4 separate regions of the Homo sapiens genome follow, and regions 1, 3 and 4 are each reported to be linked to region 2. The links are microRNA targets in miRTarBase. Many come from high-throughput screens and were not tested one by one. Region 2 holds a microRNA gene; each other region holds the end of a gene's coding sequence.
The links. Region 2 holds the annotated microRNA hsa-miR-484 (UCAGGCUCAGUCCCCUCCCGAU, at 3,880-3,901, shown strand). A microRNA usually pairs through its seed, bases 2 to 8, with sites in the 3' UTR of a target mRNA and lowers its output. Matches are read on the target gene's strand: a 7mer-m8 pairs with bases 2 to 8, a 7mer-A1 pairs with bases 2 to 7 and ends in A, and an 8mer does both.

Region 1 (7,119 bases), not on the chromosome of region 2:
TCCCGGTTAGGCTGCTCGGGGGTCAGGGGTCAGGGACCCACTTGAGGAGGCAGTCTGCCCGTTCTCAGATCTCCAGCTGCATGCTGGGAGAACCACTGCTCTCTTCAAAGCTGTCAGACAGGGACATTTAAGTCTGCAGAGGTTACTGCTGTCTCTTTGTCTGTGCCCTGCCCCCAGAGGTGGAGCCTACAGAGGCAGGCAGGCCTCCTTGAGCTGTGGTGGGCTCCACCCATTTCGAGCTTCCCGGCTGCTTTGTTTACCTAAGCAAGCCTGGGCAATGGTGGGCGCCCCTCCCTCAGCCTTGCTGCCACCTTGCAGTTTGATCTCAGACTGCTGTGCTAGCAATCAGGGGGACTCCGTGGGCATAGGACCCTCCAAGCCAGGTGCGGGATATAATCTCCTGGTGCGCCGTTTTTTAAGCCCGTCGGAAAAGTGCAGTATTAGGGTGGGAGTGACCCGATTTTCCAGGTGCTGTCTGTCACCCCTTTCTTTGACTAGGAAAGGGAACTCCCCGACCCCTTGCGCTTCCCGAGTGAGGCAATGCCTCGCCCTGCTTCGTCTTGCGCACGGTGCGCTGCACCCACTGTCCTGCACCCACTGTCTGGTACTCCCTAGTGAGATGAACCTGGTACCTCAGATGGAAATGCAGAAATCACCCGTCTTCTGCGTCGCTCATGCTGGGAGCTGTAAACCAGAGCTGTTCCTATTCGGCCATCTTGGCTGGCAATCCCAGATATTTGTGAATGTACGTAGAGTGGCAAGAACTTTGAGTTGCCCAACGCACATATTCCCATCTGAGGCTGAACAAGGTGACACTCTGCCTTCTTGTTTCAGCTTTCATACTGCAAACAAGTGGCCTTTTGGGGTCTCTTTAGTGCCATATTTTTCACATTTTGGTGTTTGTTTTTTGAGATGAGGTCCGTCGCTATGTCACCCAGGCTGGAGTGTAGTGGTGCAGCCATGGCTCACTGCAGCCTTGACCTCCTGGGCTCAAATGATTCTCCCACCTCAGCCCTGTGAGTAGCTGGGACCACAGGCACAACACCACCACACTCAGCAAATTTTTGTATTTTTTTGTAGAGACAGGGTTTTGCCATGTTGCCCAGGCTGGTCTTGAACTCCTGGGCTCAAGCGATCCGCCCACCTCAGCCTCCGAAAGTGTTGGGATTACAGGCGTGAGTCACCACGCCCAGCCATTTTGGTTCTTTTTGTTGGTGATTTTGCTGATTAAAATGGCTCCTAAGTGTACTGCTGAAGTGCTGGCTTTAAATGGGTGAACTGTATGATATATGAATAATATCTCAATAAAGTTGTCACATATATGCAAAAATAGAAACTCCAAGATCTGTGGGGTAATATGAAGTAGTCCAGGCTGGGAGCAGTGGCTCACGCCTGTAATCCCAGCACTTTGGGAGGCTGAGGTGGGTAGATCACCCATTTAAGTACTGCTAAGTGCAAGAAGGTTGTGATGAAAGGTGTGTTACATAGGCTTCATTCAGGCATGATTCAAAGTGCTGTTAGCTATGAGTTCAATGTTAATGAACCAACAGTACAGTACAAAGGAGGAAATTTGCCAATCTATACTACATGAAGCCATTCCAGAAAATGCTAAAGTATTATGACATCTACAGTGTATGAGGTAGCTATGGAATGGAATGAAAAAGCAGCTAAATTTGTGGATTCATGAGATGATTTTTTTTTTTAAGTGGACAGTACTCTTGTGAGGATAGAAGCCAAATAAATTTACAGTCGTGTTACCCATGGCCAGGAAAATGTTAAATCCTTCTTGGCTAGTGTTTTATTTTAATAAATACTGCCTCTAATTTGTAAGATATATTAAATGTCTTTAAATAGGAGCAGACATAAAACAAGGTTATGTGTTAACCAGTTGATGAAAATGTTTTGACCAGAGGCTCACAGGAAGCTAACCCTGTATCTCACCTAGGAGCAATGGTTCAGCATTTGCTAATTCTGTGCTTGCGGAGACTTTATAGAACATGGCTACCATGGGAACTCACTGTATTAATTTTCTGATCTAAGAAGCCCAAGAAATCCTAAGTAAATAAACACAAAGAGAATTACCCCTAGATATGTGATAGTTAAACTGATGAAAGCCAAAGATATAGAAAAGATCTTGAAAGCAGTCTGGGAAAAAAAAAAACAGCAATTACATACAAAGGAATAGTGACGAGTATATGCCTACCTTTCTTCAGAAACTATGGAAGCCAGAAGACATTGGAAGACAGTCAAATGCCAAAGGAAAAACCTATCAACCAAGCATTCTACATCCAGTAAAGCTGTCCTTCAAAAATGAAGGCAGCCTGTAATCCCAGCACTTTGGGAGGCCAAGGCGGGCAGATCATGAGGTCAGGAGATCGAGACCATCCTGGCTAACACAGTGAAACCCTGTCTCTACTAAAAATACAAAAAAATTAGCCGGGCATGGTGGCAGGCGCCTGTAGTCCCAGCTACTCGGGAGGCTGATGCAGGAAAATGGCGTGAACCCGGGAGGCAGAGCTTGCAGTGAGCCAAGACTGCACCACTGCACTCCAGCCTGGGCGACACAGCGAGACTCCGTCTCAAAAAAAAAAAAAAAAAAAAGGCAACATAAAGACAATTTTTTAAAATTTTATTATTTTTTAAATAGTTGTGGGTACATAGTAGGTGCATATATTTATGGGGTACATGAGATATTTTGATACAGGCATGCAATGTGAAATAAGCACATCACAGAGAATGGGGTATCCATCCCCTCAGGCATTTACTCTTTTCAATTACATTCTTTATTTTAAAATATACAATTGTTATTATTGACTATAGTCACCCTATTGTGCTATCAAATAGTAGATCTTATTCATTTTTTTTTCTTTTGGTACCCATAAATGATCCCCAATTCCCCCAAAAAACATTTTTAAATGAACCAAAACTGAGAATTCTACTCGAAGACCTAGATCATGGCTTGCTGCCTCAGTGCTGAGCAGCTTGGCTTCAGCCACCATGAACGGTTCCTTTCCTTGCTCCAGGACACCAAACTCGTTGCCGCAGATGCTGCAAATCCTTGTGGTGTTGAAATGACCCAGTATCCTGTGCTAAGAAGGGGAACAATGCCCCACTCTGCCTGTGATCCACTATAGTTGCACCACAGCAGAATTTCTAGGGCACCAAAGTGTTACCTGCAGCCTTTTGCTCCCCAGGGGGATCATACACTGTAGGGTGGTCTGGCCAGGGAAGTGCACCTAGCTGTACCATACTTTACTGGGAACTACAAACCCCCTTCAGATATCTGTCCTTGTTCAATTCAATTTGTAATGCCTGGTTCCCTCTTCCTTTGGATGTATTCTCTCTCAGGGCCCCACAATTCTCTCTTGCAAATTGCCCTCTCTTGCAAATTGCAAATTGCCCCTCTCTTGCAAATTGCAATTCCCTCTTGCAAATTGCAAATTCTATCTTGCAAATTCTCCTGCCCTTAAATTCTGGTTCTGTTTGGCAGAGAATGTTAAAACTTCAGTTATGGACATGGTATACGCTCTTATCTCAGGAGGCTTCTCAGCATCTGAGGCAGATACTGCTGGCTACCTCAAATTTTCTTTTAACCTTAACAGAACCCAAATTTTTAGCTGGACACATTACCACTTGTATTAGTTTGTTTTCTGTTACCTATAACAGAATACCTGAAACTGGGTAACTGACAAAGGAATTTATTACAGTTATGGAGGCTGAAAAGTCCCAGGTTGAGTCCATATCTGGTGGGAGCCTTCTTGCTGGTGGGGACCTTTGTGGCACCCTGAGGTGGCAAATATTCATATCGACCCCCAGGAAACTGATTTAACAGGGAGCAGCAGTTCTCTTTTCCCCCAGTCCTTCGTCCTGCTGCTTAGACTATGGATGTGATGGCTGGATTCCAGCAGCCACACTGAAACAGAAGGATGAGCTGGAAGGATCCCCGGTCTCTCATAATTTCATGGAACTGTCACACCAGTCCTAGAACACCTACTTCCCAAAGTATTTTATATAAAATAAACTTATCTTGCATACCCACTGTCTTAGTCAATTTGTCTGCTATAACAAAATGACTTAGACTGCTTAATTTATAAACAATAGATTTATTGTTCACAGTTCTAGAGGCTGAGAAGTCCAAGATCAAGACGCCGGCAGATTTGCTGTCTGGTGAGGGGCTCCTTGCTCACAGATGGTGCCTTCTCATTGCATCCTTACATGGCAGAAGGGCAAGAGGAACGAACAAGCTTCCTCAGGCCTCTTTTATAAGAGCACTAATCCCATTCACGAGGGATCTGCCCTCATAACCTAATCACCTCCCAAAGGCCCTATCTCTTAATACCAACATGTGAATTTTAGACACAAACATTCAGACCACAGCACACATAGCCCACAGCAACCATGTAATGAGGGAAACTTAGGAGAAGCAGGGTTGTGGGGGGAAGGGGATTTCATTGTAGAAGTTGGTATTGAACTCGCCAGTTTTTTTTTTTGTTTAAGAGATAGGATCTCACTCTGTTGTCCTGGCTGGAATGCAGTAGTGTGATCACAGCTCACTGCAGCCTCAAACTCCTGGGCTCAAGTGATTATCCCACCTCAGCCTTCTGAGTAGCTGGGATTACAGGCACACACCTCCGTACCTGGCTAATTTTTAAACTTTTTTTTTAAAGATGGGGTTCTATTTTGCCCAGGCTGGTCTTGAACTCCTGACTTCAAGCAATCCTCCTGCCTCTTCCTTTCAAAGCGCTAGGATTTACAGGTGTGGGCCACTGCACTTGGTCCCAATCTTTCTAGTTTTACTGGTAATTCAGCCCCCCACCCCCAGAACCCACTATAGAGAAGTGGGGCTGACTGAGGGAAGGAATGGGCTTAGCCAGTTCTACTCTCAGGAATAGAAGGAAAGCAAGAAGCCCAGCACTAACCTGGCCTGGGAAAGTGATGGAGGCTTCAGCCCCAGCAAGACAGAGTGTGGAGTCTCACCTGTGGCACCACTGCTTTTTCTAAGCATGCTCTGAAGTCTCTAACCTTCTCAATATAACAGAGCAGGTAATGTTTTGGACACAATTTGGAAAGCATATTCCTGTGGGGAGGGGATTATTTTTGTTTTGTGTGGTTTTTGGCTAAGAAGGAAGTTATTATCAGGAGCAATTTCCAATTATATACTTCACTGCTTCTGGCCTATATCCAAGATCTCTATTTAGCCAGTCAATGATGACGGGTGTTCTGGCAGAGATCCAGGACCAGCCAGTAACAGAACTACTTGGATCAACATCTATAATATTGTTCCAAATTGCAAGCAAAGTTAATTCCCCTATTCCTCTGAGGTTAGGGGAAGAACTTGTACATTTGTGTGTGTGCTGCATTCTGTGGAGATGGACAAATCTGAGCACTGCTCTCCACCCACTGCTGAGCCTGTATGACCTATCCAGGTAGCACATAGCACAATGGCCGAGAGCAGACTCTGGAGGCAGATTGCCAGGCTCAGGCCACCCCTGACAGTTTGCCGGCTGCCCTTTTGCAAGTTCCTCTACCTTGGGTGTCCGTTTCCTCCTCCAACATGAGAGTCACAATAGTAAGTTTCTCCTAGGGATGCTGAGAAGGCTACATGAAGCAATGTACAGAAGGGACAAGTATCACTATCAGCTCCCTCCAGCAGAATCCTGGGATTTAAGCAGGACCCAGTCTTGCATCTGAATGTCCAGTCAGCAATCTCTCTCTTCCATTCTCCTCCGAGGCAAACCATCTTGGCCCTTAGGCATCTTCTGCCTTATACTGACAGGTGTGTATCCTGGATAACAACCAGGACTGCATCCCCCTAAGGGTAAGGACTAGGTCTGATACTCATCTAGTGGACACTCAAATATTTTGCCAGTTCTATTATTAAGAATTTTATTTTTGAGCATTCTATATACATTTATAAGTGTACATATGATGTATTTTATGTACATGGATTAGGAAGTTCTTCAAGGGCACCATTAAGTGCCCACTGGAAAATTTTCTACAAGAGAATAGTTTGGAAAATAACAGATCAATTTAGGAGACTAAAACTATACATTGATATAAAGAATGGATATAGGTTTTCTCAATCCAGAATAGTACCCTCACCCCCTCTGCCCTCCCCTCTCCTAGATGGTCACCATAGGGCAGTAAAGTTTAATCAGTTGAGCACGGAGCTTCAGGGCGCTGGCACCCAGACTATGATGGAGAGAAGGAAAGAGCAACAAACAAACAGGCACGTTGGTAGTTGGCTACAGCCTGGGTATAAGCCCATGGCATCTTCTTCCCCCGAGACTGGGGATGTCCCGGCAACTGAGTAAGGGATGGGCCTCCTGCTGCTGACTTCTCCATAGTGAACTCAATCTCCTTGCCTCACAAGAACATCAGAGAGGTCCTCTGTTCCTTCCAGTTTTAGATTCTGAGGGAAGACCAAAACATGCATGGACTTTGGTATACGGAGAATAAAAGAATCATAAATTCCAATCACAGTCACAAGGTAGTGACTACAAAGAAGAAAGTTTGTCCCATGATTATAAGAAAAACTGTTTCATAGCAAGTATAATTTGCATGAAAAACCTGATTCCCAATCCTTGTTATAACAAAATGACTTAGGTGAAAAAGCAAAAAGCAAGCCTTCTCTGGCTCTGATTCCTGCAACCCACCCCCTATAAAGGGCCTAAGAGCTGAGCCGTCTGCCCTGAAGATGCTAATGGAGGCAGATGGGAGGTCATGAGGAGCCACAACACATACATATAGTCAGTCGTCCCCCCTTATCCTCGAGGGGTGTTCCAAGGCCCCCGGTGGATGCCTGAACTCATATAGTACCAAATCAAATACACATATATGATTTTTATATATATGTATACACAAATATACCTTGTTTTTTCCTATACATACATACTTATGATCAAGTTTAATTTACAAATTAGGCACAGTAAGAGATTAACAATAACTAATAATAAAATAGAAAAATTAAGTCAAATAAGAGGGAATGGAACACAAGCACTGCAGTACCACCAACAGTTGACCTGGGAACTGAGATGGCTACCAAGTGACTAATGGGAGAGCCACGTCTGCAGTGTGGATCTGTTGGACACAGGGACGGTTCAGATCCGGGGCAGGATG
Region 2 (7,119 bases):
AGGAAGTCTCGCTCTGTCGCCCAGGCTGGCATGCAGTGGTACGATCTCAGCTCACTGCAACCTCCGTCTCCCGGGTTCAAGCGATTTTTCTGCCTCAGCCTCCAGAGTAGCTGGGACTACAGGAGCCTGTCACTATGCCTGGCTAATTTTTATATTTTTAGTAGAGATGGGGTTTCACCAAGTTGGCCAGGCTGGTCTTGAACTCCTGACCTCAAGTGATCCACCCTCCTCGGCCTCCCAAAGTGCTGGGATTACAGGCATTAGCCACTGCGCCCGGCCAACAATTCAAATCTTAACAAACAAAATAATAATAATAAAATAAAGAAAGAAAAAAACACAAAATATCAGAGCATATTACGGGTTAATAAAATTTGGTAAACTTGGTTGACTGTTTATGCTTAAAATCTAACTGCAACAACCTGATTTCTTAAAAAATCTATAATCTGCCATTCTTCATGTTTCATAGCTCTTCAAATAAAAAATGAACTCTCCATGAGTCTTGTTTCCTTTCCACATGTAACCATGTTTGAGAGAGGTAGCCATATCTTGGAAACTTGCATATTCCAGAGTGAGACTTCACCTCCTCACTTGGCTGGAATCAATTTTTTCTACAGTTTTTCTGAATTCTTTTCGGCTCTCTCTCCCTAAAGATGCTGCTCAGGAAAGTCAAAAGTTAACAGAAGAGAGCATCTAATCTGAGTAAAAGAGCCACCACCACATCCTCATTGACAACTATATGTAAGATTTTAAAATTGACTTAAGAGCAACTTCTTGCACTGGTTTCTTGATCTGAGCATGAAAAGTCCAAACTAAGTGGCCTCTGTGGACTTTGAATTTGATTTGCTACAGAACAAATTGAACCAATTTCTTAGTTTACTAATGATGAAAGTGCAATCTGATATACCACCAAAAATCTAACTGATAGAAAAATCTCAAGTCGCAGATGTGTTATATCTACGCCAGAGCAACAACACTCTTACAGGTCTTAACAATAAATGCAAGCGAGGCACCGTGGCTCAGGCCTGCAATCCCAGCACTTTGGGAGGCCAAGGTGGGTGGATTGCTTGAGCCCAGGAGTTCCCAACCAGCCTGGGCAACATGGCAAAACCCCATGGCTACAAAAAATTAGCTGAGCGTGGTGGTGCATGCCTGTAGCCCCATCTACTCAGGAGGCTATGGTGGAAGAATCACCTAAGACTGCGTAGTCAAGGCTGCAGTGAGCTGTGATTGCACCACTGCACTGCAGCCTGGGCGACGGAGTGAGACCCTGTCTCAAAAACCAACAAACAAAATTACATGAAATTAAAATGTCAGTGTCCATAAATAAAGTTTAATTGGGACACAGACACACTCATTCACTTAAATACTGCCTATGACTGCTTTTGCATTCCAATTGCAGAGTTGCAAAGAGAGTCTCTGCAAAGAGACTGTATGGCCCACAAAGCCTATATTTACTACGTGGCTCTTTTGTCAGCCTGGGCAATATAGCAAGATCACAGCTCTAAAATAAAATAAAGTTCAAAAAATTAGCATAGTGTGGCAGCATGCGCCTAGTCCCAGCTACTAGAGAGACTGAGGTAGGAGGATCTCTTGAGCCCAAGAATTTGAGGCTACAGTGAACTATATTGTGCCACTGGCCCTTCAGCGTGGGCAACAGAGTGAGATTCCATCTCTAAAAAAATTTTTGTTTTCAAGTTTCTGTTTCCTCCTATGCAAAATGTGGCTAATTTCTCCCCGCCACTGCATTACAGAGAAAAAAAAAATTAGATAAATGAACCCCACTGTCTATTTTCACCACTGTATCTCTTGTGCCAACCAAAATGCTCCCTACTCTGTAAATACAAAGTAAACATTACCTACTACACACTATTGGGAGTGGTTAATTTGGAGATGGATTTAACTGCTACCACTGATAGTAAATTACGATTCTTGTCTTTCCTATTAGATACAGGTTTTATGTCCCCCAAAAAACTCCTCTCAAAATCGTAAGAATCTGTGATATTCACAGTGTTCATAACTTAAACATTCTCTCAAACTTCTTCAAAGCCAAATCCTGAAAGTGAGCTAACATTCACAGTATAATCTAGTTTATAAAGTATTTTCACTTAACATTACTTATGTCTTCATTCAGCAAATATTTACTTAGTATCTACTATGCAGCAGGCCTGTGCTTGGCACAAGGAATATAATGATGAAAAAAACCCAGACGGTGGGATCCTCTTATATAATTTTTGCAATAATCCTGTGAAATAGACAGGGGAGAAATTAGCTACATTTTTGCAGAGAGAGAAAAAGAAACTTAATGAAGTTTTGTAGCGAGCCTGACACAAGATTAGGCTTGTTCACCCCTTTCCACTACATCAAGGTGCCTTCAATACTGCTCAATACAAGCGATTAAAAGTAAAAACTTTCAGGTGCCTGCACCCTGAAAACTTCCCAAATACCATCCACGAAGCAACTTAGGTAGCCAAAAGCAGGTTCTGTTTGACTTGAGCGACAGTCTCCTTTCTGTCACTCTCTTCAAGTCTTTTGACCAATTCAATGAGGAGAGCATAGGCTCTGTCGACTGTCTGCATTTTGGTCTCCAATTTGACTGCGGTGCAGCTTTGGACAACTCACAACCTCTCTGAACCTCAGATCCCATCTCTAAAATGGGTGTGATAATAATAGAAACCACCTTACAAGGCCGTTGTTTGGATTACATGAGGTAATCCACGGGGAACATTTAGCAAATGTTGTTTCCTTAGCACCCAATCTAGTCTTTGACCCCACACCACCCCATCCCATTACCGTTTTCTCCCCCATAGCTCTTCTGTCCAAAACGGCCTTTTTAGCTTATTTTATTATCTTTCTCCCCCATTAGGCTATAAACTCCATGACAGCAGAGACTATGTTTTCTTATCCACTATTCCAACTCCTGTCCTTAGTACAATGCCTGGCATATTTTAATAAATAACTGTTGAACGAATAAAGCTTAATAAATAGGAAAACAGTTTAGGTTTCAATACACCGATATGCAAAAGAGAAGAATATTTACCGCTCAGAGAAGTCCAAAAGACACAAATGCAATTGGACAGCTCTTGGTAATACCGGAAAGGTGCTTGAGAAACTCTAAAAGGTGTATCACGAGGTCGCGTTACAACTACTAGTGAGAGTGGCTGAAGCCCTAGACATTGTCAACCCTGAGACTACACCCTATGTGTTGCTAAAAGGCCGAGGAGAATGCAAAACGGCCGGGGAGGGGGGAGTGTGTTGCAAAAACACCCGCCCCTTTCCTTCTCTCTTAACCTTCCAGCTGTGCACTTCACTCCTGGAGGGCCCCACCAGGGGTCAGACAGGGGCGGGCGGGGAGCCAAATGCCCTCGAAGGGGAACAGCGGCGCCAACAGTGACAGTAGTGAATGGACCCGAAAGGGAGACAAGCCAACTCTTTCGTGGGGGGCCCAACTGGCGCGTCCCAGTTAGCTAACCTCCCCTCTCCACCACCATCCCACCAGCAATAGGCGGGGAAAGAGGGGACACTGTCCTCCGTCCCGCCCCGCTGGCCTCGGAGCAGAGCCTGCCGGGGTCTGGTCGCAGGACTGTCTGCAAACTCACCTCTGCCGCCGGCTCCACCTCCGCTCACATTCCGGCCCCGCCGCCTTCCCCCCGCCCCCCCCAGGCCCTTTGTTTTGATTCCCGACTCCGCAGCTCCCGCCGCCGCCGCCAAGCGCACCCTTCACTTCCGCTTCCGCACCGCACCGCCCCTGTCGCAAAACCGACGCCCTTCTCTCCTCTTCGCCCCGCCCCTTCCTCGCCCCGCCTCCGCCGCCGCGTCCTGTCCGCGCGGGGCATGCTGGGAACCCCGGGGGGGGCGGGGCCTCGCGGCCCTGCAGCCTCGTCAGGCTCAGTCCCCTCCCGATAAACCCCTAAATAGGGACTTTCCCGGGGGGTGACCCTGGCTTTTTTGGCGAAAACCCCCAGTTTAAGGAGGCCTTCCCCCTGGCTTCACGTTGTGGAGTCGAAAGGAACCTTGAAGCGGAGAATGAGCTCGTGACGTGGACCCGAGGAAAAAACCTGCCAACCAGGATTTAATAGAATTCAGCTCTTTCAGGCTTTGGAGGGAAGGCGATTTGAACGGGATTTCAATGAAAAACCCTGTCCCTTCGGCTTTTTTTTTTTCCTCTCTCGGGTCTCGTCACGTGATGGTCCTACTTTATTTTTAAAAATTAAATGGCGCATATTCCCCAGCATCCTAAATCTAGTGCAACCTAGTGGCAAGTGGAGAAAAAAATAACTGCCAACCTGGCTTCCTACGAGGTCCCCCGGAGTTCTCGCAAAGTTGCGACCCAGTTGGCAAAAATACAGTGTGTGCAAAGACTCAACTGGACATTGCCACCAAGAATCAAGAGATTTTTGGGGACTTTAGCAAGAAAACGTTATTTTTAAAAGCCCTGCTCCAAAGCTGGTTACAAATGAATACTGCGTTTCCAGTGACAGGTTGGGCGAGCAGAAAGGAAATCTTACGGTTAGTTTCAAACACTTTGTGTTTTAGGTGGCCAGATATGCTGTGTGGTTTGCTTTAAAAAAAAAAATAGCGCCCCACAATCTTCACGTTTCCCTGGAATAAAAAAAAATTTAAGACTCAGCAAAAGGGTGATTTCTGAAACTACCAGCTGATTACTATTTTCTGTTGCAAATTAGGAAAAAAGCAAAGCACATATTGTGTAAGTTAAATCTAGACACGATTTAGGATGTGCTAGCTGCTAGCTAAATGCTACCTTAGGAGTTTATTTTTAAAGTTTGCCCAGAAACAAGTTGACTTTGCAAAAGAATCAGTAAGTCGAAATTGCCAAACGAGAATATTTTGCCCAAAAAAATCCTTACTGGGAGGTTATTTCAATAGGCAATCCCCATTACGTGGGGATTAACACATCCCTGTAAACATCCCTGTAGACGGGTATTGTGGAGGGCAGGATCAGACATGTAGCTGAAGAATCCTTTGTGCCTGTATTTAATTTTCCAGAAGGCAGATGACAAGCACACATCCTCTCCCTGCGTAGGTATTTATTACTGCTGACTAAATCTTGACTGTGGGCTGGGCGCAGTGGCTCAGGCCTGTATTCCCAATACTTTGAGAGGCTACGGAGGGAGGATCTCTTGAGCCTACAAATTTGAGACTAGACTGGGAAACGGTGAAACCCTATCACTATTTAGAAAAGAAAGAAAAAGAAAAAAATCTTCATTATGTCTGTGTATAGGTAGTATTTTCCAAGTGGAGATTAGAATAGATGAAAAACCCGTTTCTAGCGTTTTGGCTTTTTTCAAAGTACCAAACAAATACGCTACTCTTCAGAGGTGTTTTTTCCCCATTTTATTTCAGTTGAGTATGTTTCAACACAAGCCATATTAACTAAAAATCTTAAGAAACAAGGTAATTGTAGGTTTCTAATTGCTTTTTTTAAAAAATAGTTTTTAGCCAGAAAACATCAAAGAATGCAGACACATTTCCTTTTTACTTTTTTTTTTTTTTTTTTTGAGACAAAGTCTTGCTTCATTGCCCAGGCTGGAGTGCAGTGGCAGGATCTTGGCTCACTGCAGCCTCCACCTCCCGGGTTCAACCGATTCTCATGCCTCAGCCTCCTGAGTAGCTAGGATTACAGGCGCCCACCACCATGCCTGGCTAATTTTTGTGTTTTTAGTAGAGACGGGATATTGCCATGTTGGCCAGGCTGGTCTCGAACTCCTAGCCTCAAGTGATCCTCCCGCCTCGGCCTCTTTAGGATTACAGGGCTGAGCCAACGAGCTTGACCACATTTTCTTTATATGTATATTTTTCTTTTAGATTCCTTTTTACCAAGCAGACACATTTTGTTTGACTTAGCTTGGCATTCTTTCAAGTCCAAAGCTGTAACTAGTCACAACAAGTAAATGTAGTGATTGAAAATGGGCGGGGCATGGTGACTCATGTCGTAATCCCAGCACTTTGGGAGGCTGAGACAGGAGGACCCCTTGAGGCTTGGTGTTTAAAACCAGCCTGAGCAACATGGTGTGACACTTGTCTCTATTAAAAAAATTTTTAAAAACAAAACAGTCGTATTAAGTGGAAGGCTAATAAAAGTCTGAATTACAAATACTTTTAAAAGAAATGTAATTTTATTGCTGCTTTCTAAAGACTAGGAGCCTAAGCAAAGTATACCAGGCCTTAGGAGACAATTATGAATCAAAATACATAAATTTTCTCTTAAGATATATTTTAAGTATGTATCCTCTATTAATTGTATTCCTGTTTCTTTGCTGGGAAAACTTTAGAGAGTACAAGTAACTTTCAGTTTTTCCCTTGTCCAAATTATAGTCTTCACATGTATGAAAACCGAAAGACTTTTTTGTGTGCTATTTAAGTAGCTACTTTACATGCAATTCAGCTTTTCAACTAACCAAGCTGTTATTAAAGGAGTTTCTCCCCAGAAACCAATCTTCTACCTGTATTAGGTTCAGTGGTTTGAATTAATAAATGATCATGGAAGGACCTAAGGAAGTTAAATTGAGTTATCTGCTCAGCCATAGTCCAAAGCTACAAGGAAAACAAATTGAATTTAAAAAGAACAAGAAAAACATTTTAAATGTTTTTAAGGTTTTACCCAATGACAAACCTATTTCCCTAAATGTTGTTCCCAAATAGGACTTTAAGGATTATTATTTCAATGCCCTCTCTTTTTTCTTTATGGAAAATTTGGGAAATTGAGAACCAACTAGTTTAAATACCTTGATCAAAGCCATTTAGGCAACACCAGTACCTCATCAGTTTGTGCTTCGGTTTCTCTGTAAGCTGAGGTGATTAGTTCCTGTCCAGAAACGTCACAGAGTGGTTAGGGCCAAATAAAATTCCGAGGGGGGCCAGGCGCAGTGGCTCACGCCTGTAATCCCAGCACTTTGGGAGGCCGAGGCAGGTGGATCACTTGAGGTCAGGAGTTCGAGACCAGCCTGGCCAAACCAACATGGTGAAACCCTGTGTCTACTAAAACTACAAAATTAGCTGGACGTGGTGGTGCACACCTGAAATCCCAGCTACTCAGGAATCTGAGGCAGGAGAATCGCTTGAACCCAGGAGGAAGAGGTTGCGGTGAGCCGAGATCGTGCC
Region 3 (7,119 bases), not on the chromosome of region 2:
GCGCATACCACCACGTGCAGCTAATTTTTGTGTGTTCAGTAGAGAAGGGGTTTTGCCATGTTGGCCAGTCTGGTCTCAAACTTATGACCTCAAGTGATCTGCCTGCCTTGGACTCGCAAAGCCCTGGGGTTACAGACATGAGCCACTGCACCCAGCCTGAAATAATTATTTTCTCAGAAAAAAATACAAAAGATAATATAACCCTTCTCCCAGATCTAACACATGTTAACACTTAACTATATTTGTTTCAGAATTGAAAAAATTAATTCAGTGCATCTATAATGTTTTTCAGCTCACCCAAGGCCAGCCCCAAGGATTTGTCTTTTCTGTAGCTCTCAGACCACCTTCTTTGCCCTCAGCATGCTGCCTCCCAGCCTCTTGTAGAGAGCAGTGTGGGACTGGAAGGCAAGAGTGTGCTGCTAGCTCCTGCTTTGATGCCAGTCCCCAGCCCCTGCCCCTCCGTCTCCATCCCCCCTGTTAAATGCAGTGGCTGTCAGCTGGACGTGTTGGCTTATGCTTGTAATCCTGACACTTTGGGAGGCCGAGGTGGGTGGATCACCTGAGGTCAGGAGTTTAAGACCAGCCTGGCCAACATGGTGAAACCCTGTCTCTACTAAAAATACAGGAAATTAGCCGGGCGTTGTGGTTCACGGCTGTAGTCCCAGCTACTCAAGTAGGAGGCTGAGACATGAGAATCGCCTAATCCCAGGAGGTGGAGATTGCAGTGAGCCGAGATCATGCCACTGCACTCCAGCCTGGGTGACAGAGTGGGACTCCGTCTCAAAAAATAAAAAAAAAAAAAGGCGGGAGGTGGAAATGCAATGGCCAGGGTGGTGTTGGACCAGGTAACCCTTCAGAACCCTTCTAACTGGTGTCCTAGGGCCCTGGCTACTCTGTGCTATGAGCATTCACCGACCACACTGACCTGGCCTCATATTTTCTCTTCCCTTTCAGTGGCCGCAAGAGGAAGAGGACGTGGAATGGGACGTGGAAACATCTTTCAAAAGCGAAGATAATTTTCTAAGTTGAACAGAACTTTGTCCTTTTTTCTTTCAGGTTATCTGAGTTCATTGGAGTGGGTGCTTGTGCATATATGCTAGGTATCTTTTGCCATCTTTCTCTTTAGATCAGGGGAAATGTTTAAGCTAAATAAATCTGGGGGGTTTTTTGTTCTGTTTTGTTTTGTTTTCTTTGAGAAAATAAGGACTTTGTGTTCATTTGAAGTTTGCTTTGGCTAAATTTTGACACCCTGGGGGATGTCCTGGGAGAATGCCAGTACTTTGAAATAGCACAGCTATTGATGAGATTTTAAGCTGCTGTTCCTGGCCAGTTGCAGGTTAAGCCCCAGAAAAGTTCACCTTGGAGAAGCTCCGAGAACACACAGATTGTGTCTCATTCATCTTCAGACACAGGCACATAGTGTGGCACTTTGTTCAGTTAACATTTGTGGAGCTGTCATCAGCTCAGCTTTAACAACACAGGTGACTCTTTCCCTTGATAAAGTCATAGGTAATTCAGGGGCTGGGTGCGGCGGCTCACGCATGTAATCCCAGCACTTTGGGAGGCCAAGGCGGGCGGATCACGAGGTCAGGAGTTCGAGACCAGCCTGGCCAATATGGTGAAACCTCGTGTGTACTAAAAATAAAAAAATTAGCCGGGTGCGGTGGCATGTACCTGTAGTCCCAGCTACTCGGGAGGCTGAGGCAGAAGATTCGCTTGAACCCAGGAGGTGGACATTGCAGTGAGCAGAGATCATGCCACTGTACTCCAGCTTGGGTGACAGAGCGAGACTGCACCTCAAAAAAAAAAAAGTAATTCAGGGGATCCTAGTGGCCAGCTTCCTTGGCTCGTATACTGGCTACAACAAGTAGTTTTGTGGTGATTTGTGGAAACAGATTCTTGGGAGCATATCAGAGCATCTCAGCATTGATTGGCACATCCATAGTTGTTAATGTAGGAAGGGTGACCAGCAGCTCAGCACAGTGGCTTGCTTCCAGCACTCTGGGAGGCTGAGGTAGAGGATTGTTTGAGAGGAGTTCAAAACCAGCCCGCGAGACATAGTGAGACCCTGTCTCTACAAAAAATTCTAAAAATTAACTTGGCATGGTGGTGCACACCTGTAGTCCTCGCTACTAGGGAGGCTGAGGTGGGAGGATCACTTGAGCCTGGGAGTATGAGGCTGCAGTGAGCTATGACCTTGCCACTGTACTCCAGCCTGGGCAAAAGAGCAAGACTTTGTCTTTAAAGAAAAATAAGTAGTAGTAAAGAGTATAAGATACACAGGGTGAATAATTGTGACAAAAACACAGAAACTGGAAAAGCAGCCTGAAAAAATCAAATCACCAAAAAGAGGTCTTGCCAGGTATTCATTATGGTATGAGCTACAGCATAAGCCATCAAGAGGAAAACTGATCAATTATTGGCTTTTAGAATATTGCTCATTGAACAGATTATTCAAGTAATGAAAGAGGAGGGGAAAAAAATCCAGCACATTAGTTAACCTGGCATCAATTAATGAGGTTCTAATAAGCTTTGTCTTATGATACTACCTGGAGGTTACAGAGCTGGTATTCTGAGGAATAAGCATCAGTGAGTTGGTCAGATACAATAGACGTTTAAAATAGGGCTTCAGGCCAAACATGGTGCCCCACGCCTATAATGCCAGCACTTTGGGAGGTCGAGGCGGGAGGATCACTTGAACCTAGGAGTTTGAGACTAGCCTGGGCTGTTAAGCTTTGTTAACCAAGACCGCATCTCTACAAAAAATTGAAAAGTAGCTGGGCACAGCTGATGCCTGCAGTCCCAGCTATCCTGGAGGTTGAGGCAGGACGACCACATGAGCCCAGGAGATTAAGGCTGCAGTGAGCTATAATTGCACCACTGCACTCCAGCCTGGATGACAGTGAGACCCTGTCTCTTAAATAAAAAACAAATGAAAGCAGTGGTTTTCAACATCAACTAAGGATCTTATTAGAAATGAAGACTGCAAGCCGCACACCTGGAGTGGGGCCCAGGAATCTGCATTTTAAACAATTCCCTGGTCCCCAGATAAGTAATTCTTAAGTATTCTATCTTAAGTAGACCTAAAGCCGTATTTTGACCCTGTACTAGTATGTTATTTTAGTATAATCATTACTGAATTCATCATACTTTTACAGTAAACAGTACTTACTTTGAATAATAACACATTACACTTAATAGTAGTGAACTGCATCCTCGATATCAAAAGCGACTTTTGATGTAGTTCACTCTGGACCCGTACAGGAACACCAGCCTTGCAGATTCTCCACGCAATGGAAACTGGCTATAACCCTACCTAGATCTGAAAAGTGAAGGGGGATCAACCTAAAATATGTAGCTTTGTAAACAGTTTTATATCCTGCATCTTAGGGGGGAAAATCAGTTGACGCAGATTGAAAACAAGTTGTTCCATAAGGTTTATTATGAAAAACAGTAGCCCTCCTACCCTGCCTTTACCCCACTTTCCTTGCCTCACAGTAGTCTGTCCAACTCTTGGCTGATTTGTTTGTATTTACCTCCATGTCTCAATATGAACATGTTTTCATGACTATTCCTTGATGGTTTTTTGTTTGCTTGTTTTAAGACGGTCTCACTCTTCCCCAGGCGGGAGTGCAATGGCACAATCATGGCTCACTGCAGCCTCAACCTTCTCGGGCTCAGGTGATTCTCCCACCTCAGCCTCCTGAGTAGCTAGAAATACTGGTGCACACCACCATGCCTAGCTAATTTTTGTATTTTTTGTAGAGACAGGGTTTTGCCATGTTGCCCAAGCTGGTCTTGAACTCCGGGGCTCAAGTGATCTGCCCGCCTCGGCCTGCTGGGATTATAGGTGTGAGCCACTGCACCCGGCCACCATTATCTTTTGAATCCTCTCTTCCTCCTGCCCACCATGAATTTACTTCCTCTCACCCATCTCCCTGATATTGTAATTCTGGTTAGATCATATTCAGTGTCAAATTATTAAGATGTGATTAAACTTTTTAAAAATATGACAGTGTCATAGTGATCACAGCTGAGTCATACAATAGACTAGATTACTGTGGAACTTTTCCCTGAAAGTAATCCTCTTGCATTTTTATTTGCTTGGTTTTCTATTTGTCACTAATTCAACCCCAATCATATCTGAAGATCATGACATCATTTATCAGTTATTATTCTTGACCCACCCCAATCTGGACTGGTTTCTCCCCGTGCTTGGTGTGTCACTGTCACCCTGGGCACTCCCCACACTGCTCCTCTGTTGGATCTCTGTTTTCTGTGTAACCTCTTCTTTTATCACCTTATTTTGGGGGAGTATCTGCATGTCTAAAAATGTGCTCACACTTGATTTGATTGGGTATGAAATTCTATGTTGGAATTAGTGCCGGGCGCAGTGGCTCATTCCTGTAATCCCAGCACTTTGGGAGGCCGAGGTGGGTGGATCACACAGTCAGGAGATCGAGACCATCCTGGCTAACACGCTGAAACCCCGTCTCTACTAAAAATACAAAAAAATTAGCTGGGCGTGGTGGCGGGCACCTGTGGTCCCAGCTACTCGGGAGGCTGAGGCAGGAGAATGGCATGAACCCGGGAGGTGGAGCCTGCAGTGAGCCGAGATTGCACCACTGCACTCCAGCCTGGGTGACAGAGTGAGACTCCGTCTCAAAAAAAAAAAAAAAAAAAAAAAAAAGGAATTAGTATCCTTCAGAATTTTGAAGTTATGGCTACTTTGTCATCTAGCATTGCTGTAGAGAAGTCTGAAGTGATTTTGAGTCCAGATCTTTTTTTTTTTTTTTGAGACGGAGTCTCGCTCTGTCTCCCAGGCTGGAGTGCAGTGGTGCGATCTCGGCTTACTGCAAGCTCCGCCTCACAGGTTCATGCCATTCTCCTGCCTCAGCCTCCCGAGTAGCTGGGACCACAGGCGCCCGCCACCACGCCCAGCTAATTTTTTTGTATTTTTAGTAGAGACGGGGTTTCAGCGTGTTAGCCAGGATGGTCTCGATCTCCTGACTGTGTGATCCACCCACCTCGGCCTCCCAAAGTGCTGGGATTACAGGCGTGAGCCACCGCACCCGGCCAGAGTCCAGATCCTTTTTATATGACTTTTTTTTTTTTCCCTTCTGTTATCAGTGTTCCAAAATTTCAGAATGACGTATTAATACCTGCCTTGGCGAAGGTCTGTTTCCATGCCAGGCCCCTTTCCGAGTGAACTCTTGTCCTTAATTTCTGGGAAACTTTCTTGAATTCATTCTCAGTGATTTTCTTCCTTAGGTTGTCTGTGGTTTTTCTTTTTCTTTTTTTTTTTAAAGACTGAGTTTCACGCTTGTTGCCCAGGCTGGAGTGAAATGGTGCCATCTCGGCTCACTGCAACCTTTGCCTCCGGTGTTCAAGCAATTCTCCTGCCTCAGCCTCCCAAGTAACTGGGATTACAGGCACCTGCCCCAACACCCGGCTAATTTTTTGTATTTTTAGTAGAGGCAGATTTTCACCATGTTGGTCAGGCTGGTCTCAAACTCGTGACCTCGGGTGATCCACCTGCCTTGGCCTCCCAAAGTGCTGGGATTACAGGCGTGAGCCACCAGGCCCGGCTGTCTGTGGTTTTTCTTTCTGGAATTTCTGTTACTCAGATGGTGGACCCAGAATTACCTCTCCTCCCTGTGTGCCCCAACCCCAATTTTCTTTTCTTTTGATCATAATTTATGGAGGATTACTCCAAGTTGATTCTCTGATTGTTCCTTTATATACGTAGATATATAGGGACAGTACCTTGTTCCTTGTTGCAACATCTTTGAGGATATTAATATGCTCTGTAGAAGCTTTCATCTCCCTGCATATGTCTTTCTGCTTTCTGTTCTTCAATTTAATCTTTCATGTTACAGACTTTCTTTAGCTGCCTGGCAATCGTTGGTAATCTTGCTTATATTTAAGAGTGGAGTATTAAAAAGAATATGTGATTGTAAGGTGATCTCATTGAGCTTCTTTGGGGAAATCCCCAGTGTCCATACTTCTAGAACTTTGCTCCAGGCTGGACAGGTTCTCTTGGAGAAACTTTTGGTTTCACATCAGGAGGGTTTACTCTGAGCTGCTGGATTGAGAGCTCTGTTGGGGAAGAGGGTGAGAATTTCAGCATTCTAGTATGTCCACATTCAGTTCCTTCATCCAGGTCTCTGGGAGGGCTCCTAGTCCAGAAACCTTCTAACCCCCTCTGGAGAATAAGCTTCCAACTTTTTTGCCAAGATTGGGGAAGTCAGGTCATGTGGAAATATGAATGTTTCAGCATGCTTTTGCTTTTTTTCTTTGAAAATATATTACTTTAAAATGAAGAATAAGACTGGGGGTGGTGGCTTATGCCTGTAATCCCAGCACTTTGGGAGGCTGAGGTGGGCAGATCACCTGAAGTCAGGCATTCAAGACCAGCCTGGCCAACATGACAAAACCGTGTCTCTACTAAAAATACAAAAATTAGCTGGGTGTGGTGGCACATGCCTGTAATCTCAGTTACTGGGGAGGCTGAGGCAGGAGAATCGCTTGAACCCAGGAGGTGGAGGTTGCATTGAGCTGAGATCGCACCACTGCACACCAGCCTGGGCAACAGAGCGGGACTCTGTCTCAAAAAGAAAAAAAAAAGAATAACTCAGATTTAAAGAAGATATAGACTAAAGGATGATGTCATAAAGGTAATTAGACCAGTATTTAACATGAATTCTGAGCAGGACACGGTGGCTCACGCCTGTAATCCCAGCACTTTGGGAGGCCGAGGCAGGTGGATCACGAGGTCAGGAGTTCGAGACCAGCCTGGCCAAGATGGTGAAACCCCATCTCTACTAAAAATACAAAAATTAGCCAGGTGTTGGGGCGGGTGCCTGTAATCCCAGCTACTCAGGAGGCTGAGGCAGAGAATTGCTTTAACCCAGGAGGCGGAGCTTACAGTGAGCCGAGATTGTGCCACTGCACTCCAGCCTGGGTGACAGAGCAAGACTCCATCTCAAAAAGAAAAAGAAAAACCAAAAACATGAATTCTGGTTCTGAGTGCCACCGTGACCACCTCTCCCAGCCTCTGGTTGGTTATCTGTACAAGGGTGGATGTGGACTCACTTGATTCACTGATACTATCCCAGC
Region 4 (7,119 bases), not on the chromosome of region 2:
CACTGGCTCTTGCAGAAGTCGGTGGGGCAGTGACTTGGCCTGGGAGGTGGCTATGGAACCAGCGGGTAGGCGGGGGTGAAATACCCACACCCCCACAAAGCGTGCTCACACACAGAATGACATGGAAGGGTTTGCAGTTGCCCTGACAGCTAGGATAGCTCAGGGGAGAGCCCAGGGATAAGCCTGAGGCAGTGGTGGGTGCAGAATGTTGGACCTAGGTTGCCCTAACTCCCCCTTCTTGTCATCTGATTTATCTTTCTCTGGCCACATACTAAAAGCCATTTTTCTCTCCCGCTCCTTCTCCAATTCTCTGTTGAATGTCATCCTTATTTTCCGTTGTCGCTTTGATTTCATCTCTGTCTTGCTGATTTCTGTGTCTCTATGCCAATATCACTCTGTCCCTCTCTCCTCTTCCCCCACCACGCCCCTCTTCCCGTTTTCTACCCCCAAACCCTGAGTCTCTTTCCTCTCTCTTTATCTCTGGGTCTCTGTCCCATGTCCCATGTTTTCTCTGGACCTCCATCCTCCCCTCCTGGGTCTCTGGCTCCCTTACTGGGTTTCTGTGCCCTCCCCTGCCTCTCTGACTTCCTCTCTCTCTGGGTTGCCGGCCCCATCTCTTGATCTGTGTTCTCACCCTTTTCTTCACTCCTGTGGTCTTTGCCTTCTTTCTCTGCATCTCTTCCTCTCTCTCACTTCGTCTCTGCCCGTCTCTGTGCTCCCTGCTGTCTTTGGCTCCTCGCCTCCTGCTGCAGCCCCGTGTGACCCCAGAGGGTGAGTACATCCCGCTGGACCACCAGGATGTGGATGTGGGCTTTGATGGAGGCACCGATCGTATCTTCCTCGTGTCCCCCATCACCATCGTCCATGAGATCGACTCTGCCAGTCCTCTGTATGAGCTAGGACGTGCCGAGCTGGCCAGGGCTGACTTTGAGCTGGTGGTCATTCTCGAGGGGATGGTTGAGGCCACAGCCATGACCACACAGTGTCGCTCGTCCTACCTCCCTGGTGAACTGCTCTGGGGCCATCGTTTTGAGCCAGTTCTCTTCCAGCGTGGCTCCCAGTATGAGGTCGACTATCGCCACTTCCATCGCACTTATGAGGTCCCAGGGACACCGGTCTGCAGTGCTAAGGAGCTGGATGAACGGGCAGAGCAGGCTTCCCACAGCCTCAAGTCTAGTTTCCCCGGCTCTCTGACTGCATTTTGTTATGAGAATGAACTTGCTCTGAGCTGCTGCCAGGAGGAAGATGAGGACGATGAGACTGAGGAAGGGAATGGGGTGGAAACAGAAGATGGGGCTGCTAGCCCCCGAGTTCTCACACCAACCCTGGCGCTGACCCTGCCTCCATGATGCAAACTGATGTCCCCTTCCCCGTGTATGCCCCCTTCCCCAAGGTAGCAAGATGGAGGGATGGGGCTCTCTCCTGGGATGGGGGCAGGTGTTCCTGAATACCGACAGGCCTGCTGGGTAAATGACTAGGTGGTAAGGTTCTGCCATGCCTGGTGACCCACCATGGACATACTGGACCTTAATTCCTCTGCTTCTGTGCTCCCTCCTGAGAACCCTTTATGAGCCTGATTCCTCAGTCTCACCAGAATTCTGGATCACCCAAGAGGAAAAGACTGGCAGTTCTAGATTCCTCTATATGGGGAGACCTGGATTGTTGACCAGGGTGAGAAGCCAATGGTATAGACTGCCTCTGGGGAAGCAAGTTGGCAGTTCTTGAACAGCATCAGATATCAAGAGTTTGTAGGTCTGGATTCACCTAAGATTCAAGGGAGTGTTGCTTCTCAACTCAGCCAACTGAGTAGCAAATCATTTGTTCTAGACCACCTAAGGAGGGAAGGTTATGGAATGCCCCAAGTATTCAAGATCATCTTGATTGACCAAAGACCAAAAAAAAAAAAAAGACCTGTGGTTCCAGAAAGCTCATTAGTTGAGATTCTGTGAGTCTAGGTTGACCACAGAGGCAAGCACTGGTGAGTCTAGGACAGATTTTACGTGGAGAGTTGAACTACTCCAGAAACTAAAGAGTAATGTTTCTAGAATGCACAAAACATTGTTAGTCTGTGGGTTTAGAAAGACTGAAGTGACAGATTAAGAGTTCTTGATATTAGATAACTCCAACTTCTGGCTGTAGAGCACCCAGCCAAGAGAATAAGCAGTGCTTTGAAAGGATCCACTGGGTGGGTTGTTTTTTTTTAAAGTGCCATTCTAGAATGTCCAAAGGGAATCAGGATTCTGTGGCTGTAGACTGATCACAGAGTCAAGGAAGCAGTGGCAATTCTAGATATCTGAGATTTTGCTGGTTCCAGTTTGCCCAATGGAGTTGAGAATCTCAATGATTCTAGATGACTTCTTGTGGTTCTGTAATGCCAAAAGGAATGAAGGCTCCAGGGATACAGAGTTGTCCATTACCAAAGCCTGGAAGTTCTCATCACCTCCAGGTGGACTGCTTGGCAGTGCTAGGAGGTGGACTCAGGACTTCAGAAGCAACATTTCTGGCCTGACCTGGAAGGTGAAGGTGAAGGTGAGACCCTGTAGGGCACAGGGCTAATTAGTGGACAAGGGAAGGGGGAGGCCCAGGGCTGGTGAGTCTAGAATGCTCTGGAACCCTACACCTAGTGATGTGTGTCTATTTCTTTTTCTTTTTCTTTTTTTTTTTTTTTTGAGACTGAGTCTCGCTCTGCCGCCCAGGCTGGAGTGCAATGGCGTGATCTCAGCTCACTGCAACCTCCGCCTCCCGGCTTCAAGTGTTTCTCCTGCCTCAGTCTCCTGAGTCGCTGGGATTACAGGCATGAGCCACTATGCCTGGCTAATTTTTGTATTTTTAGTAGAGACGGGGTTTCGCCATGTTGGCGAGGTTGGTCTTGAACTCCCGACCTCAGATGATCCACCTGCCTCGGTCTCCCAAAGTGCTGGGATTACGGGTGTGAGCCACCATGCCCAGCCGTGTGTCTGTTTCTTAAAGATATTATACATATGTATATTATATATATGTAATATAAATACAGATATCTATCTATTTTTTCCCTTGGTCCCTACAACAGGCTTAGAGATGGAGTGCTAGCTAATTGGAATGAGGTCCTTTTCAAGGACCCCAGAAGCTTTGCTCTAAATCCCAATGCTGCCCCAACTTACTGTGTCACTTTGGACTCCTCTTCATGTCAGTTTCCCCATCTGTAAAAACGGGATATTGGAACTTGAAGTTCTTCAGGGGCCTTTCCAGCAGGATGAGTCCTCACTACACCAAGGGTGGGATGGGCATTCGAGTCCTGGGGATTTCCCTCCTCTCCCCAGTGCTGGATCATACGGCCTTCCAGGAGACGCTGGGATGTAAGATACTCTTGGAGGCTGGCTCTGAACTCGGGTGTCTGAATCACAGGGCAAGGGTAGGCGTGGGCTGTGGCTAACAGCCAGAGTCACTTCCCTGGCCTAGCTTGGGGACCTGGGGAGGAGGAGGTAGCTCTGGACACCAGGGTTCTTCCCATTGTGGGAGAGTGAGTGTTTTAGGGGGAGACCTGTCCCCCAGATTAAAGAACTGGGAGCCCTAGCGGATGTGTCTGCGAATGTGTTTCTCGAGCATGGGTCCTCCGACCTGGCCCCCTGCCCATGCTACCATCTACCTAAGTGCCCCGCAGGCTGGGAGCCAACTGCAGAGGGAGCCAGTGACAGTGAGGAGGACGTGTTCCCACCCCGTGTTCTGGACCGAGGGCAGCCACTGTCATTGCCATTCAGCCTTCACAAGTGCTGCATCAACCCAAATGCCCCCTCCAGCTTCTCCATCTCCCTTTATCCCTCAGAATCCCCATGTAATAACCGGATGGGATTAATTAGCTGGCTGCTCTCTCAGCTCAGGGTGTCTGGGGTAGGTAGGGATGGGGGCAATGGAAACGCAGGGTTGGGGAAGGATGTTAAGTTGGAAGTGAAGGGGCAGGGAGGGGGTTTCGTTTGAAAGGAGTATGGGAGCAGGGCAGCCCAGCCTGGGTTTCCACTGGGGAGGGCAGGGCCTGGGCCACTCATAAAGGTCAGTGAGGGGATTAGGAGCCTCCATGTCTAATCCGACAGCTTAACTAGGTCCTGGCCCTGAATCCGTCTCCACCTGCCCAGCCCAGGGACAGCAAATGAGGACGAGGCCCAGACACCACTTCAGCCCCCATTACGGCTTCCCTCTTTACAGGGGTGCCTGGGTTCCCTATTCCAGCCAGTCCCTTGACCACATTCCGTTACAAATAATGGGACATAGAGGCTGGGGAAGGGGAAGGGGAAGGGGCCTCAGAGGAGGGAGGAGTTTAAGAAGGGCAAGGGTGGCTGGGCACGGTGGCTCACGCCTATGGGCACGGTGGCTCACGCCTAGCACTTTGGGAGGCTGAGGCGGGTGGATCACCTGAGGTCAGGAGTTTGAGACCAGCCTGGCCAACATGGCGAAACCCCGTCTCTACTAAAAATACAAAAATTAGCCGGGCATGGTGGTGGGCGCCTATAATCCCAGCTCCTTGGGAGGCTGAGGTAGGAGTATCGCGTCAACCTTGTGGGTGGAGGTTGCAGTGAGCTGAGATCATGCCAGTTCATTCCAGACTGGGCAAAAGAGCAAAACTCTGTCTCAAAAAAAAAAAAAAAAAAAAAAAGGGCAAGAGTATGAGAGGACAAGGGGGACCGTGACGTGAGGGGAGCCAGAGAGGAAAAAAGGCCTCTGAGATGGGAGAAGGAATCAGAGAGGTGGGAGGATGCTGAGGAAAGGGGAGTTGTCTTAGCAGGAGGATGCTTGGGGAAGGGAGGAGTCTTAGGAGGATGCTAAGCTAAAGGAAGGAGTTTGGAGAAATGAGGGAGGAGTCTGAGCGGCAGAAGGTGCCAGGAAGGCCGAGCCTGTGCTTTCACTAAATTTCACCTTCCCCTGTTCCATTCCCCATGACCGATACCAAATAGCATAGCATTTAGAAAAAAGTAAATCTTGGCCAGGCGCGGTGGCTCACGCCTGTAACCCCAGCACTTTGGAGGGCCAAGGTGGGCGGATCATGAGGTCAGGAGTTCGAGACCAGCTTGGCCAACATGGTGAAACGCCCGTCTCTATTAAAAATACAAAAAATAGCCAGGCATGCACCATCATGGTGCAACCCTGTAATCCCAGCTACTCGGGAGGCTGAGGCAGGAGAATTGCTTGAACCCGGGAGGCGGAGGTTGCAGTGAACCGAGATCGCGCAACTGCACTCCAGCTTGGGCGACAGAGCAAGACTCTGTCTCAAAAAAAAAAAAAAAAGAAAAAACGAAGAAGTCTTTTGTTTCACCACTCCACGACTCCGAAGAGGCTGAGGGGGATGGGGAGGGCATAGATGGTGATAAAGAAGGAGTTCGGCGGTAAGAAGGGGCTGAGAGGAGGGGAAATACGCGGAGAAGAAATGCAAAAGAAAAGGAGGCCTAAAGCCGCTCCCGGTTGCATGGCAACCTTTGCGGTCAGAAGCCAGCATGGCCTGCTAGGAGGTGTGGCTTACGGAAACAAGCCAGTTCTAGCCCCGCCTCCTAGCAACAAGACTAACAAAGTACCGCCCCCTAGCAACGTATTATCGGAGGCGGGGCTCGGTTTACCTAGACTCCAAGTGTCCAGGGCCTTTGAGCAGGCGCAGAGGTGGCTGTACCGCGTGGCTCCGCCTCCGCGCGACACTTTTCCGGGGCTTCTCATTGGAGAGCAAGCCTGTCAAGTGCTTTCTGTTGTTTCGGAGGCGGGGCCTGCTGCCCTGCCTGCACTCCGATTGGCCCCGCGGGCCGTCTACCTCTGGCCGGACATACCTACACCGGCTTTTTGTACGACTGTTGGCCCTGGAGAACGATCCTTTGGTGGCGAGGGCGGGGAGGACGAAAGCGCCCACTGTGGATTGGACAGTGTCAAAAAGAGGGGCGGTCCCTACTGAAGGGGCGGTTGGGCGACGAAGGGAAGAGTCTTTTCAGCGCTGAGGACTGGCGCTGAGGAGGCGGCGGTGGCTCCCGGGGCGTTTGAGCGGGCTCACCCGAGCCCGCGGGCCAACGCGGATCCAGGCCCGACTGGCGGGACCGCCCCGGATTCCCCGCGGGCCTTCCTAGCCGCCATGGAGGACGGCGTCTATGGTAGGTCGGGGAGGGGCGGGGTCGGCTGGGAGTTGCTGGAGCGTTTTCTCCTGAACGTTCCGCCGCGAACGTTTCCCCCTGGCGCGCGGCGCCCAGAAGCGTTCGGCTCAGTCGTAGACTTGTCGCGCCGCTTTTGTTGGGCGCTGGACGGGCTTCCGGCGGGGCCCGAAAGCCGGGCGTTCCAGGCCATTGTTTGGGCTGAGCCTGTTTCCGGTGGCGGCGGGAGGGGCGGGATGGAGTGGTGGAGGCGAGGCCGGGGCGGAACCATTCCCGCTGGAGGGGCGGGCGAGCCCAGCGCCTGCCGGGGCCGGGGAGGGGCGCTTGGGTTGCGGGGAGGGGAGAAATCTTGGGGGGCGGGGGCCTTCGATGTCCCGCCCCACCTTCCCAACTCTCCTGAGCTGTCATCAGTTCCCCCGGCTGTAGTGACTTTTCATGGACCCAGTAGTCCGGATAACCAGGTCCCCAGCTACCTCGCCAGTAATGGAGTCAGAAAACCAAGGCCTCAGTCCCCTTCCAAGTAATGGACCTAGAAGCCGAGGCCCCCAGCCCTTTCTTCCCTCAGATCTAAGAGCTCAGGCACCCATTCCCCTTCTCCCTCAGACTCAGGAATCCGGGCCCCAATTCCCCTTGTCCCCCAGGACTCAAGAGTTTAGAGCCCCAGCTCTTTCTCCTCTGCAGGGAGGAATCCAGGCCCCCAGCCCATTCTTCTGTGCAGACATAGGAAGCCCCTTACACATCCTCTCCCAGCTCTGTCCGCCCCCAGATTGCAGGAATTCAGGCTCACGGCCCCTAGCACTGACTTTTAAACCTTGACCCCGATCCCTAGAACCCCCAGACCTGACTCCGGAGGAGCGGATGGAGCTGGAGAACATCCGGCGGCGGAAGCAGGAGCTGCTGGTGGAGATTCAGCGCCTGCGGGAGGAGCTCAGTGAAGCCATGAGCGAGGTGGAGGGGCTGGAGGCCAATGAGGGCAGGTGAGGGCTGGGGCGGATGACCTAGGGGGCGTGGGGTTGGCTGAGGC

Region 1: miRTarBase lists NCAPH as a target of hsa-miR-484. Seed matches in the 3' UTR shown: 7mer-m8 at 5,474-5,480.
Region 3: miRTarBase lists SNRPD3 as a target of hsa-miR-484. Seed matches in the 3' UTR shown: 7mer-m8 at 2,162-2,168 and 7mer-A1 at 2,323-2,329.
Region 4: miRTarBase lists KCNJ14 as a target of hsa-miR-484. Seed matches in the 3' UTR shown: 8mer at 1,570-1,577.

Annotation. Positions count from the first base shown.
Region 1 is chr2:96,372,585-96,379,703 of GRCh38, reverse strand. It overlaps NCAPH (non-SMC condensin I complex subunit H), which reads right to left. Exons shown (of 18, transcript NM_015341.5): 18 at 2,613-6,412. The coding sequence ends at 6,353. Among named protein-coding and RNA genes, the nearest start is that of NCAPH, 40 kb to the right of the region's middle.
Region 2 is chr16:15,639,422-15,646,540 of GRCh38, forward strand. MIR484 (microRNA 484) reads left to right here and starts at 3,873; the gene lies at 3,873-3,951. MARF1 (meiosis regulator and mRNA stability factor 1) reads right to left here and starts at 3,733. Exons shown (of 27, transcript NM_014647.4): 1 at 3,597-3,733. It also overlaps a transcript of NDE1 not described here.
Region 3 is chr22:24,570,962-24,578,080 of GRCh38, forward strand. SNRPD3 (small nuclear ribonucleoprotein D3 polypeptide) reads left to right here. Exons shown (of 4, transcript NM_004175.5): 4 at 955-4,010. The coding sequence ends at 1,016. It overlaps LOC124905091 (a long non-coding RNA gene), which reads right to left. Exons shown (of 2, transcript XR_007068024.1): 2 at 5,718-6,099. Among named protein-coding and RNA genes, the nearest start is that of SNRPD3, 19 kb to the left of the region's middle.
Region 4 is chr19:48,463,429-48,470,547 of GRCh38, forward strand. It overlaps KCNJ14 (potassium inwardly rectifying channel subfamily J member 14), which reads left to right. Exons shown (of 3, transcript NM_013348.4): 3 at 753-3,552. The coding sequence ends at 1,349. CYTH2 (cytohesin 2) reads left to right here and starts at 5,941. Exons shown (of 12, transcript NM_004228.7): 1 at 5,941-6,098; 2 at 6,925-7,072. The coding sequence starts at 6,080. LOC105372430 (a long non-coding RNA gene) reads right to left here and starts at 6,105. Exons shown (of 3, transcript NR_186576.1): 1 at 5,583-6,105; 2 at 3,141-3,179; 3 at 1,983-2,510. RefSeq lists enhancers at 5,042-5,542, 5,247-5,406, 5,600-6,593 and a silencer at 5,957-6,146.